2 separate regions of the Homo sapiens genome follow, and region 2 is linked to region 1. Evidence: fine-mapped expression QTL. A gene starts in region 1. The other region holds a variant in brackets. All regions are shown on one strand. Distances are from middle to middle.

The links. PIP is the estimated chance that this variant, and not a neighbour inherited with it, causes the effect. A credible set is the group of variants that fine-mapping cannot tell apart.
Region 2: its variant is the best candidate, but not a certain one, in a credible set for the expression of NPR3 in fibroblasts (GTEx, PIP 0.88).

What each region holds. Positions count from the first base shown.
Region 1 is chr5:32,708,839-32,714,212 of GRCh38, forward strand. It overlaps NPR3 (natriuretic peptide receptor 3), which reads left to right and starts at 2,483. Exons shown (of 8, transcript NM_001204375.2): 1 at 2,483-3,707. The coding sequence starts at 2,939. RefSeq lists an enhancer at 2,844-3,569 and a silencer at 3,445-3,739.
Region 2 is chr5:32,826,382-32,831,755 of GRCh38, forward strand. No RefSeq gene overlaps it. Among named protein-coding and RNA genes, the nearest start is that of NPR3, 120 kb to the left of the region's middle. The variant T/C (reference allele first, on the strand shown) is at 2,359.

The sequences.
Region 1 (5,374 bases):
TTAAAAACCCTAATTGTTGCTCACTGGAATTCTTAAGGGGTGTTTTGAGCTTCAGCAAAAGCATAACACTGGCTTTTTTTTTTTTTTTAATTCGTTCCGCTGCTTGGTTTGGGGTCTCTTCCCTTCCGCAGCTTGGTCTTGTTGCTGCTCTTGAGTGTGACAAACTGCAAGTCGAGAGCTCTTGTCCAAAAGCTGCGGAGAGGCTACGGGCACTCACCCTTACTTAAGCGCACTGCCCTGCTGTTGAACTGCAGGCGAGGCTAGGTAGCATCTGGGATGGGACAGGCGTTCACACCGGTGCCACTGAAACCCCAGACTCTCCGCATAAACCCACACCACACGCGGCAGAATCATATCGCCATTGGCTGGTGTTCCGCAGACACAGGGCATACCGCAGAGTAATAGGAAACACTGGTTCCTACCACTGTGGCCAGTGGTAGGACTGGGTCTCCGAGGCAGGACCTTTCTTGGAGTCTCGGAACCCCAGCACAGTGCCTGGCAACCAGTTTCGAAATCCATTAAGACCCTTGGAATTCATGATTTAGTTCTTGTTTTGTTGTTGTTCTTTTTCTTTTTTTTTTTTTTTAATCTGTGCTGCCATAAACGCCTGCCCTTCTGCAAATTCAGGAAAGATTTAATTGCTGTGGAGCACTAAATCTCAATTTCCAGTGTGTGTGGATTACCCTGTTTGTGGAATTAAATTTTATACAGATGTCTCTTTTGCTCCTGGTTAGTGGCTCTAATTAAATAAATGGAAATTCTCGCAGGAATTAGAAGCTCCTACTTAACAGTGAAGATTTCGGGATCACAGTGCATAATCTGAATATAAATGACCCAGAAGCTGAAACATTACCCATAATCACATTGACGGTTCCAGAAAGAGCGATAAGGAGAGTGCTGTTAAGGGAGGCGAGCGCTGACGCCAGAAGTTGCCATATCCCCAGAAACCCCAGTTTGCCTTTTCACCGTCGCAAGTGAGAACCAGAGCGCGTTAAAGGCCTCGGAGTAAAAAACGCAGCGTCTGGGACTGCGGCACCCGGGTTGAGTCGGGTGCAAGTTTCTGCCGAAAGAGGGCGTCGGTCTGAGACTAAAAGAAATTTGTGGACACGGACGCCTAGTCAAATGAAAGACCATTTTAACACATTTTCAATGTATTTAAATGTGCGGGACTTAATTGTCAGAATTCTCCCGCCCAGTGTAGCCCGTTCACATTGCAAATGACTTGGCTGCAGTAGGCACAGAAGGTCCAGTTCCATTTTGACCCGCCCCGCCGCGCGGCGGACTCCCGCGATGCTCCTCTGGTCACGGACTTCTCCAGAGCCGCTTCCCTCCGGTCTCCACCGCTGCTGTGGCTATGGCCAGTGGGAGGACTGGGTCTCCGAGGCAGGACCTTTCTTGGAGTCGCGGAACCCCAGCACAGTGCCTCGAGCGCTCCAGAGAAGGAGCGGTTGGATCTTTGAGCACTCAGGTTGGAGGGGAGCGTGTGTCGTACCCGGGGGACCTACCGGGAACGTTTTGGGAAAGACAGTCCCTTTATTTAGGTACCTGGTTTAGCAAACAAAGCCCCGAGGACGCTTTGGGGATGCTTTCCAAGCTTTGTGACACCTCCAGAAGTTGAACCATTCCCTCGCCTTTGGGAGCAACAAGTTTCACTTTCCTGCTCTCAGTGCGCTGACAGAGGGTCCGTGAGCTGGGACACTGTGACCTCGGCACCGCTGCGATTCCAGCGCAAACCTGCGTGGCCCAGGGGGAGGGGGCTGGCGCGGGGCTGAGGAAGGCGGGGTGTAGGTGACGCCCGGGCCAGCCGGGCACACCAGGTCCGCGATGGAGCCATCTGCACTGGGACCTTGGTCCTTGTTCCCTGACCTTGCGCCGAGGGACCAGGAAGGTCAGGTGCTCGCCCCGCGTCGGTGCTTCAGGAGGGAATGTGGCCAGAACGAGAAAGGTGAGAGCAAGCGGCACCTAAGGATTTTTGCACCGAAACCACAATTTCTAGAACCATCCCTTTCCCCCAGTCCTGGTTTTTTTTTTTTTTTGCACGGTGTGTGTGTGTATATGTGTGTGTGTGTGTGTGTGTGTATGTGTGCGTGCGCGCGCGCATTTCTCTACTTTAAAGCACGTTTCCTTTTTTGAAGCCAGGAGCTGGAGAGCGTGGAAAGGGAGAGGCGGTGATCGCACAGGCACGCGGCGTGGTGGGGGCTCTTGCCGGTGCAGACGTGGGCGATTTCAGCTTTAAGGAAAAGGCAGAGGGCCTGCGGGGAGTGGTGGTTAGGGACAGGGGCGCGATGGGTAGTGAAGGGGTGCAGGGAGGAGCCCTGATGTAAGAATGTTAATGAGAGACTCCCCCAGCCCAGCCCCCACATCTCCCCACCCCCACCCACCCCACCCGCTGGAAACACAAGCCCGGCCTCGGCGCGCCATGTGTGGTAACACGCTCAGCCGCTGCCACGCTATTTAAACGCGGGCTATGGATCCAGGAACCGGCGCGAATCAATGAGATCAAATGCGAGGGAGATGCACCGTCAATTACAAACACTTGGACAAGTCTAACTTTTTTTTTCTTCTACAAAAACGCTTTCAAAAGCAACCTTAGCAACGCCCAAATAAGAAGCCACCTCTAAGCAAAATAGTATATGTATAAACGGAGGGCGAATATATACAAGTATATATATATGTATATTACAGACGCACAGGTTTACACCCGGTGAACTTTTTCTTTTTCTTTTTCTTTTTTTTTTAAGAAAAACTAGTGACATTGCAGAGAAGGACGCTTCCTCTCTATCTTTTGGCGCATTAGTGAAGGGGGTATTCTATTTTGTTAAAGCGCCCAAGGGGGCGCAGGGACCTTGGAGAGAAGAGTGGGGAGGAAAGAGGAAGGGTGGGTGGGGGGCAGAGGGCGAGTCGGCGGCGGCGAGGGCAAGCTCTTTCTTGCGGCACGATGCCGTCTCTGCTGGTGCTCACTTTCTCCCCGTGCGTACTACTCGGCTGGGCGTTGCTGGCCGGCGGCACCGGTGGCGGTGGCGTTGGCGGCGGCGGCGGTGGCGCGGGCATAGGCGGCGGACGCCAGGAGAGAGAGGCGCTGCCGCCACAGAAGATCGAGGTGCTGGTGTTACTGCCCCAGGATGACTCGTACTTGTTTTCACTCACCCGGGTGCGGCCGGCCATCGAGTATGCTCTGCGCAGCGTGGAGGGCAACGGGACTGGGAGGCGGCTTCTGCCGCCGGGCACTCGCTTCCAGGTGGCTTACGAGGATTCAGACTGTGGGAACCGTGCGCTCTTCAGCTTGGTGGACCGCGTGGCGGCGGCGCGGGGCGCCAAGCCAGACCTTATCCTGGGGCCAGTGTGCGAGTATGCAGCAGCGCCAGTGGCCCGGCTTGCATCGCACTGGGACCTGCCCATGCTGTCGGCTGGGGCGCTGGCCGCTGGCTTCCAGCACAAGGACTCTGAGTACTCGCACCTCACGCGCGTGGCGCCCGCCTACGCCAAGATGGGCGAGATGATGCTCGCCCTGTTCCGCCACCACCACTGGAGCCGCGCTGCACTGGTCTACAGCGACGACAAGCTGGAGCGGAACTGCTACTTCACCCTCGAGGGGGTCCACGAGGTCTTCCAGGAGGAGGGTTTGCACACGTCCATCTACAGTTTCGACGAGACCAAAGACTTGGATCTGGAAGACATCGTGCGCAATATCCAGGCCAGTGAGAGAGGTGAGCAGGGGCGCGTCCCGGGCCCCGGGCCCTAACCCAACCGCTCTCCGCGGCTCTCCCTGCACACTCGTCCACTCTGCAGACCCCACTCCCCACTGCGGCGCTGAGGTCGGGTGCGCGCGGGCACTCGTTCAGGTATGCGCCGTGTGGCTGCGACAACCTTTGACGACCGCCCATCGCGGTGTACGTAGAGGGTCCCAGGGAGGTGAAGGGGTTGGAGGAGAGGGCGTCTGTAGCTCCTGCGTGCCCAGGTCCAACAGGTGCTGTCAAACACTTCGATGTTTTTTCTTCCCAGTTTCCACTTTGCCAGCGCCGGGCTGGTGATTAGGGGGCGCACTCCCAGTGCCTGGCTCCATCCAGGGTCTGAAGCATCCGAGGCGGAAAGAACTTGTTCCCCAGTCCTTTGCCAGCGTGCGCCCCCACTTAGTGCGGAAGCGTCCGCGGACGCCTCGCAGCGAGGCGTCGCCACTTAGCTCGCCCGCTCTTGGGGTTTCTCTGACTGTTGTTTCCACAGACCCCAGGTTTCTTTTAAAGGCTTGTTGACTCACTCTTCTCATTCCTTTCATTTCCCTTCCAGCCCCTTATAAACGAGCTTCTGTGGTTTCCACCAAAAATGCCCCTGTGTGTCTGAATTCTGGCGACACTCACTTCTCCCAGAGTGTTCTGCAACGCAGTTTCTAATGCGCCCAGAGCTAAGCTTTGCGGGAGTGCCTTTTGAAGAAACGAGCGCTGAACCTTCTTTCCACCTGTCCCCCAAGTTTTCTCCATGGGTCTTTGGGTGTTGGAATAAAACCCAAACTGGACAAAGAGCTCGAGGCTGAGGATGGTGGCTATGGCTTCGGGGAGCGGGGGGACGCGGACGTGTAATCGCCAGTGTGGCCCATTTTACGGTAGGGTAGAATCTGAGGGAAGGCGGACTGAGATGCCGGTATAGCGCCGATCCCTCCTCCCTCTAGTCAGGGATTAGGAGCACTGCGATGAGGGAATCCCGTCTCTGCTCCCCCTTGGCGCTCACGCGCCTGGAATGTGAGTGGTGCAATCCCGGCAAAGCTCCCCGAGACCCCAGTGCCACGCGGATGAGACCGAAGGGGAGCGGAGTTGAGCCAGGCGCCGGGCTAGTCCACAACTTGGCATGGCCGAGCACCTGGGCGCTGGTCGTAGGGGACAGCGCAACCTGAGGCCGAAGGCCCCAGGAACAGGTGAGAGTGGACAGAGAAGCCATCGATAATGGCGCTGCTGTCACCGCCTTGCCATCTTGGCCACCTCGGACTCACCCTTTAGAGCAAAGAGGCGAGAGGTGTTTGACAGTGGGAATGCATGGCCAAATTTTGAGCTCTGGAACTCCAGGCTGTCTGTGCCGAATTCCTACCAGCCAAGCAGGCGGGGCGCAGGCTTTGCCGATTATGAAAAAGGGCACGTGTGTCCAACGGCTGCGGACTTGCCACGCCTGCCACGCCTCGGCAAGGAACCCACATCTACACTCCCAAGTCCCAGTCGCCAGGTTACTGCAGCCTCCACGGGGGTGTCTGCGCCCCGGGCTGCTAAGGCTCCCGGAACCTGCTTCTCCAGTTCTCGGCTTTCGAGGGCTAGGCGCTAGAAGTCAGAGACTTCCCAAGGCCGGCTGGGACTGGGGGTGTGTCCCCCTATGGGCGAGATCCGCGGTTTGC
Region 2 (5,374 bases), 120 kb after region 1:
ACAGGAGCACCCAGATTCATAAAGCAAGTCCTGAGTGACCTACAAAGAGACTTAGACGCCCACACATTAATAATGGGAGACTTTAACACCCCACTGTCAACATTAGACAGATCAACGAGACAGAAAGTCAACAAGGATACCCAGGAATTGAACTCAGCTCTGCACCAAGCAGACCTAATAGACATCTACAGAACTCTCCACCCCAAATCAACAGAGTATACATTTTTTTCAGCACCACACCACACCTATTCCAAAATTGACCACATAGTTGGAAGTAAAGCTCTCCTCAGCAAATGTAAAAGAACAGAAATTATAACAAACTATCTCTCAGACCACAGTGCAATCAAACTAGAACTCAGGATTAAGAATCTCACTCAAAGCCACTCAACTCCATGGAAACTGAACAACCTGCTCCTGAATGACTACTGGGTACATAACGAAATGAAGGCAGAAATAAAGATGTTCTTTGAAACCAACGAGAACAAAGACACCACATACCAGAATCTCTGGGACGCATTCAAAGCAGTGTGTAGAGGGAAATTTATAGCACTAAATGCCTACAAGAGAAAGCAGGAAAGATCCAAAATTGACACCCTAACATCACAATTAAAAGAACTAGAAAAGCAAGAGCAAACACATTCAAAAGCTAGCAGAAGGCAAGAAATAACTAAAATCAGAGCAGAACTGAAGGAAATAGAGACACAAAAAACCCTTCAAAAAATCAATGAATCCAGGAGCTGGTTTTTTGAAAGGATCAACAAAATTGATAGACCGCTAGCAAGACTAATAAAGAAAAAAAGAGAGAAGAATCAAATAGACACAATAAAAAATGATAAAGGGGATATCACCACCGATCCCACAGAAATACAAACTACCATCAGAGAATACTACAAACACCTCTACGCAAATAAACTAGAAAATCTAGAAGAAATGGATACATTCCTCGACACATACACTCTCCCAAGACTAAACCAGGAAGAAGTTGAATCTCTGAATAGACCAATAACAGGCTCTGAAATTGTGGCAATAATCAATAGTTTACCAACCAAAAAGAGTCCAGGACCAGATGGATTCACAGCCGAATTCTACCAGAGGTACAAGGAGGAGCTGGTACCATTCCTTCTGAAACTATTCCAATCAATAGAAAAAGAGGGAATCCTCCCTAACTCATTTTATGAGGCCAGCATCATTCTGATACCAAAGCCGGGCAGAGACACAACCAAAAAAGAGAATTTTAGACCAATATCCTTGATGAACATTGATGCAAAAATCCTCAATAAAATACTGGCAAACCGAATCCAGCAGCACATCAAAAAGCTTATCCACCATGATCAAGTGGGCTTCATCCCTGGGATGCAAGGCTGGTTCAATATACGCAAATCAATAAATGTAATCCAGCATATAAACAGAGCCAAAGACAAAAACCACATGATTATCTCAATAGATGCAGAAAAAGCCTTTGACAAAATTCAACAACCCTTCATGCTAAAAACTCTCAATAAATTAGGTATTGATGGGACGTATTTCAAAATAATAAGAGCTATCTATGACAAACCCACAGCCAATATCATACTGAATGGGCAAAAACTGGAAGCATTCCCTTTGAAAACTAACTCTTAAGATACTTGTAGAATGTGTGATCACAGTGCTCTCCCTGTTACCATAGGACACCTTCCCTATTGCAATAGTGCCTTTACTCCTTTTGCAATAATTATTTTGAATGAAGTCTCTTCTTACTAACTCTGGATTTGCTTTTATTTGACAATAGCATATGGTGAGTTTGTGACCAGAGGCAAACGGCCAAGGCCAATGACTCCAGCTGTGAATGCCAGTAGGATGCCCCAAGGCCCAGATGGGGCCCTCTGCACCCCAGGGACAAGACCAGACAAATTGCTCCATGGTATGTAGGCCAGTGGGGATCAGAGGATGATGGTTAGATTTGGAGCTCCTTTGCCACAGATAAGGGGTCTCATCATGCCCTCCTTCAGCCAGTTGATATTTTGGAGAACTGGGGCTGCAGTGCTCCCAAGGACTGACAACTCAGAAGAAATAAACTGTTTCTTCCAGCTTAAAAGTCTTTTTTGAATGTAATATTGTTACAGAAAAGTATGTGTGTGTGTGTGTGTGTGTGTGTGTGTGTGTCTGTTACCAGCAAGGACTTATGAAGCTTATGAGGGTGACTAACTCTGTTAAAAAAAAATAGACAAAAGCCACATTTTCTTAGTGCAGTTGACAGTAGTGTGTGCAAATTTGCCACCAGCTATACTAGAATTACGAATCAAAGAAAACAAGATGATATTTCACAGCAATAAATGTGAAATCTTGCCTTTGGGTTCAAAAACATGTAAGTACAGGATG[T/C]GAATATTTGGTTTAGGAACAGCACGGCAATACTCAGGAAGAAAAAATTAGTGGTTGTATTAGTCAGGAATTTTTTGGTTGCCACTTACAAAAATCCAACTGGGATTAGGCAAAAGGGCAAAAAGGGAATTTATTGACTCTCAGAATCCAAGAACAACCAGACTGAGGGAAGGGCAGGGAAGGCTGCTAGGTTTCAGGGATAAATGGGCAAGGGACACAAAAGCCCTGGGTTCTCTCCGTTTCTTGACTGGGCTGGCCTCTCTTTGGGTGGCATTCTCTCTTCTGTGTTTTATTCTCTCTTGCTACAGTCTATCTTTCTGCACAGGGCAGGATTATGGCCCTTAAACGCTTCTGAAGATCATCCCTTCTAACTTTTGCTAGTGGACTTGGAAGAGGCTGGCTCTTTCAGATGCAGCCAGACAAGACCTGAGGAAGAATTCTGATGGGAAACCTGGTAAGGGCTCTCTTTGCAGCCGGGGAGACAGAATCATGTCAAAAAGTGGCAGTTCTCAAGATAGCCATTTAAACATGCTTACAGGGAGGGAGGAAGAGAGAGGGTTGTTTGAAATTTTCAAGAAGTAAAAGGAATTTCTGGATAAATAACTCCATAAGCTCCAAGTATGAGTGGGTAGTCATTGTTAATATGAAGGCAGATGCAGGCTGTGTTTTGCAGAGACACTGGTACAGTGGAGGATACATCCGTGTACATAAAGATTAGGGTGCATCAGGTAGTGCACCTGGGGTTGGGCTTTTGTTTTGGGGGTCATGTTTAGAGGAGATGATAGACCAAATGGAGGTTGTTGTGAGGAAAGCAACTAGACTGGTGGGATAATTCAAACCATTCTATATTATTGCTAATGCTGCTATCTTGGGGAAATCCTCAAAGAACCAGGGACATTTAGACTGGAGAGGAGAAGGTCTGGGGACATAGTAGCTGTCATCAGCAGCTTGTATTCTTTATGAATTTATGAATTAGCATATAGGAGCCTCAGAGCCACAGAATTTTTTATTAGGGAAACCGCTAATAAAACCATCAGATCTCATGAAACTTATTCACTACCATGAGAACAGTATGGGGGAAACTGCCCCCATGATTAAATTATCTCCCACTGGGTCCCTCCCACAGCTCCTGGGAATTATGGGCTACAACTCAAGATGAGATTTGTGTGGGGACACAGCCAAACCATATTAGGATGGTGCTGTTGGAAGGGCTGGCAGAGCTGGGACCTTCTTAGGAAAACGTGATCAAGGTGGAGAAGAAGGGGAAGAGCCTTCCCTGAGTGAGGGAGTGCAGTAAAGGGGAAGAGGTGGCCCAGGTACAGCCTCCTGCTCCTGGTTGCAGCCCTGCAGACCTCACTGTGCTCTGGTGGTGTCCCTTCCATTTCCATGCTTTGATTTCCATTCCTGCCCCAGATATGTGCAGGATTGGAGAGGGCAGCAAGGGACCCCTGGGGGGACTGAGGATGCCTTCAGCCTGGGTTCTCCCCACCTATGTATGGGGACGGGGCAAAGCCCCAGAATCACTGAGGCAACCTATCCTCTTCCTCAGGAACCCTTTACTTGCTCCTGCCTCAGAGCTTCCTGTTCTCATTTCCAGCCCTTCCCTCATCCAACCTGACTTTCTTTCTTTACTGTATATGAGGTGATATTTGTGATGTGAGGTGCAATGTGATCTTCTCCACTTCATAGAGGTATAAATGATGGGCCAGGTGTAATCTGTTACTCATTCAGGGTTCACTTACATTTTAATAAAAGATAACTTTTTTTAACCACAGCAAAGACATCCTCAATGGTAAATTTTAGCCATCTTCAATAAAAAAGGGAGGACTTAGAGAATTTGTGAGAAGGATTCACTTCTGTATCCCCCACCCTCAAGAGTGTTTTTCACATGGTGAGTTGTGTCTTAAGAAATCAATTTTGTGTTTCACAACTAGCATTTTTTAAATAACAAAATACAATTGAATGGAATGAAATAGAACAGACAAAAATATTGAGTTTACAACATATAGCAAGAGTAAGTTATGTTTCATAAAACGTATTTCAGGTAAACATGTGTGTGTGCAACATCATACATGTCATGTTGTAAAATATATTTTTACTGTCAGTTGTAGCCCAAACAAAAGTTTGAAAAATATTGTCTTAAGTTTACCCTCTGGAAAAGTACAATTTGACTTTGATCTGAATGAGTTGGTCTTATTAAAGAATCAAGATGGTGTTGGCTAGACTAGCTTTTGCCTTGTGGTGGGTTCTAAGAATATTTTTATTTTTTCTATGTCCCATATCAGATGAGTGGGAGTCTCTCAGTTTTTCAAGTCCTCTCAGGAAGCAAAACAAAATGAAGTAATAACAATTGCTTCCTACTTACCTAAGCAAATGCTTTTTGCTTGTGATTTCCCCAGGACTGTTACAGGAGATGAAGACTTGATCAGTGTTTCTAAGTACCTTTGAGGATTAGAGTAATCAGTAATGCATATCTGTCATCCATAAAAGCAAATGTGTACTTCCTACTGGACTTTTCCATTTGCTGAAGTCAGGAGAACCAACATGGCTTGTTTGAATTAAATAAGGTCACTGTTCGAAGAATCAATCTTGAGGAAGAGAAGTAAGAGCCAGTAGTAGTATTGCAAAGCATAACCCTGTTCCCAAAGACACGCTGAGCCCTGGAGACTAGGGCATGAGGCAAAGGAGCTGAAGAACGCTCAAAACTGTTCTCAATGATTATTCCATTTTGGGGCAAATGTACATGAAAATGGTAGTACCAGAGAAACAGCTATATGCCAGAAAGCCTGAGCTCTGAAGAGAGGCATGGAGAACTCAATTTCACTAAGTCCAGAGGATGACTAAAAATGCCAAGATAGGCTCAAGGTGAAATAGATCCCACTGGAAGTTCAGAAGGACAGTTTTGAGGGTTTCTACCCCAGGGAAACCACTTAGAATTGTAAACTGGATGTTTACATGATGAAATTGGCCTTGAGCCTGTGCCACCCAGATGCCAAAACAAAACAAAATGAAACAA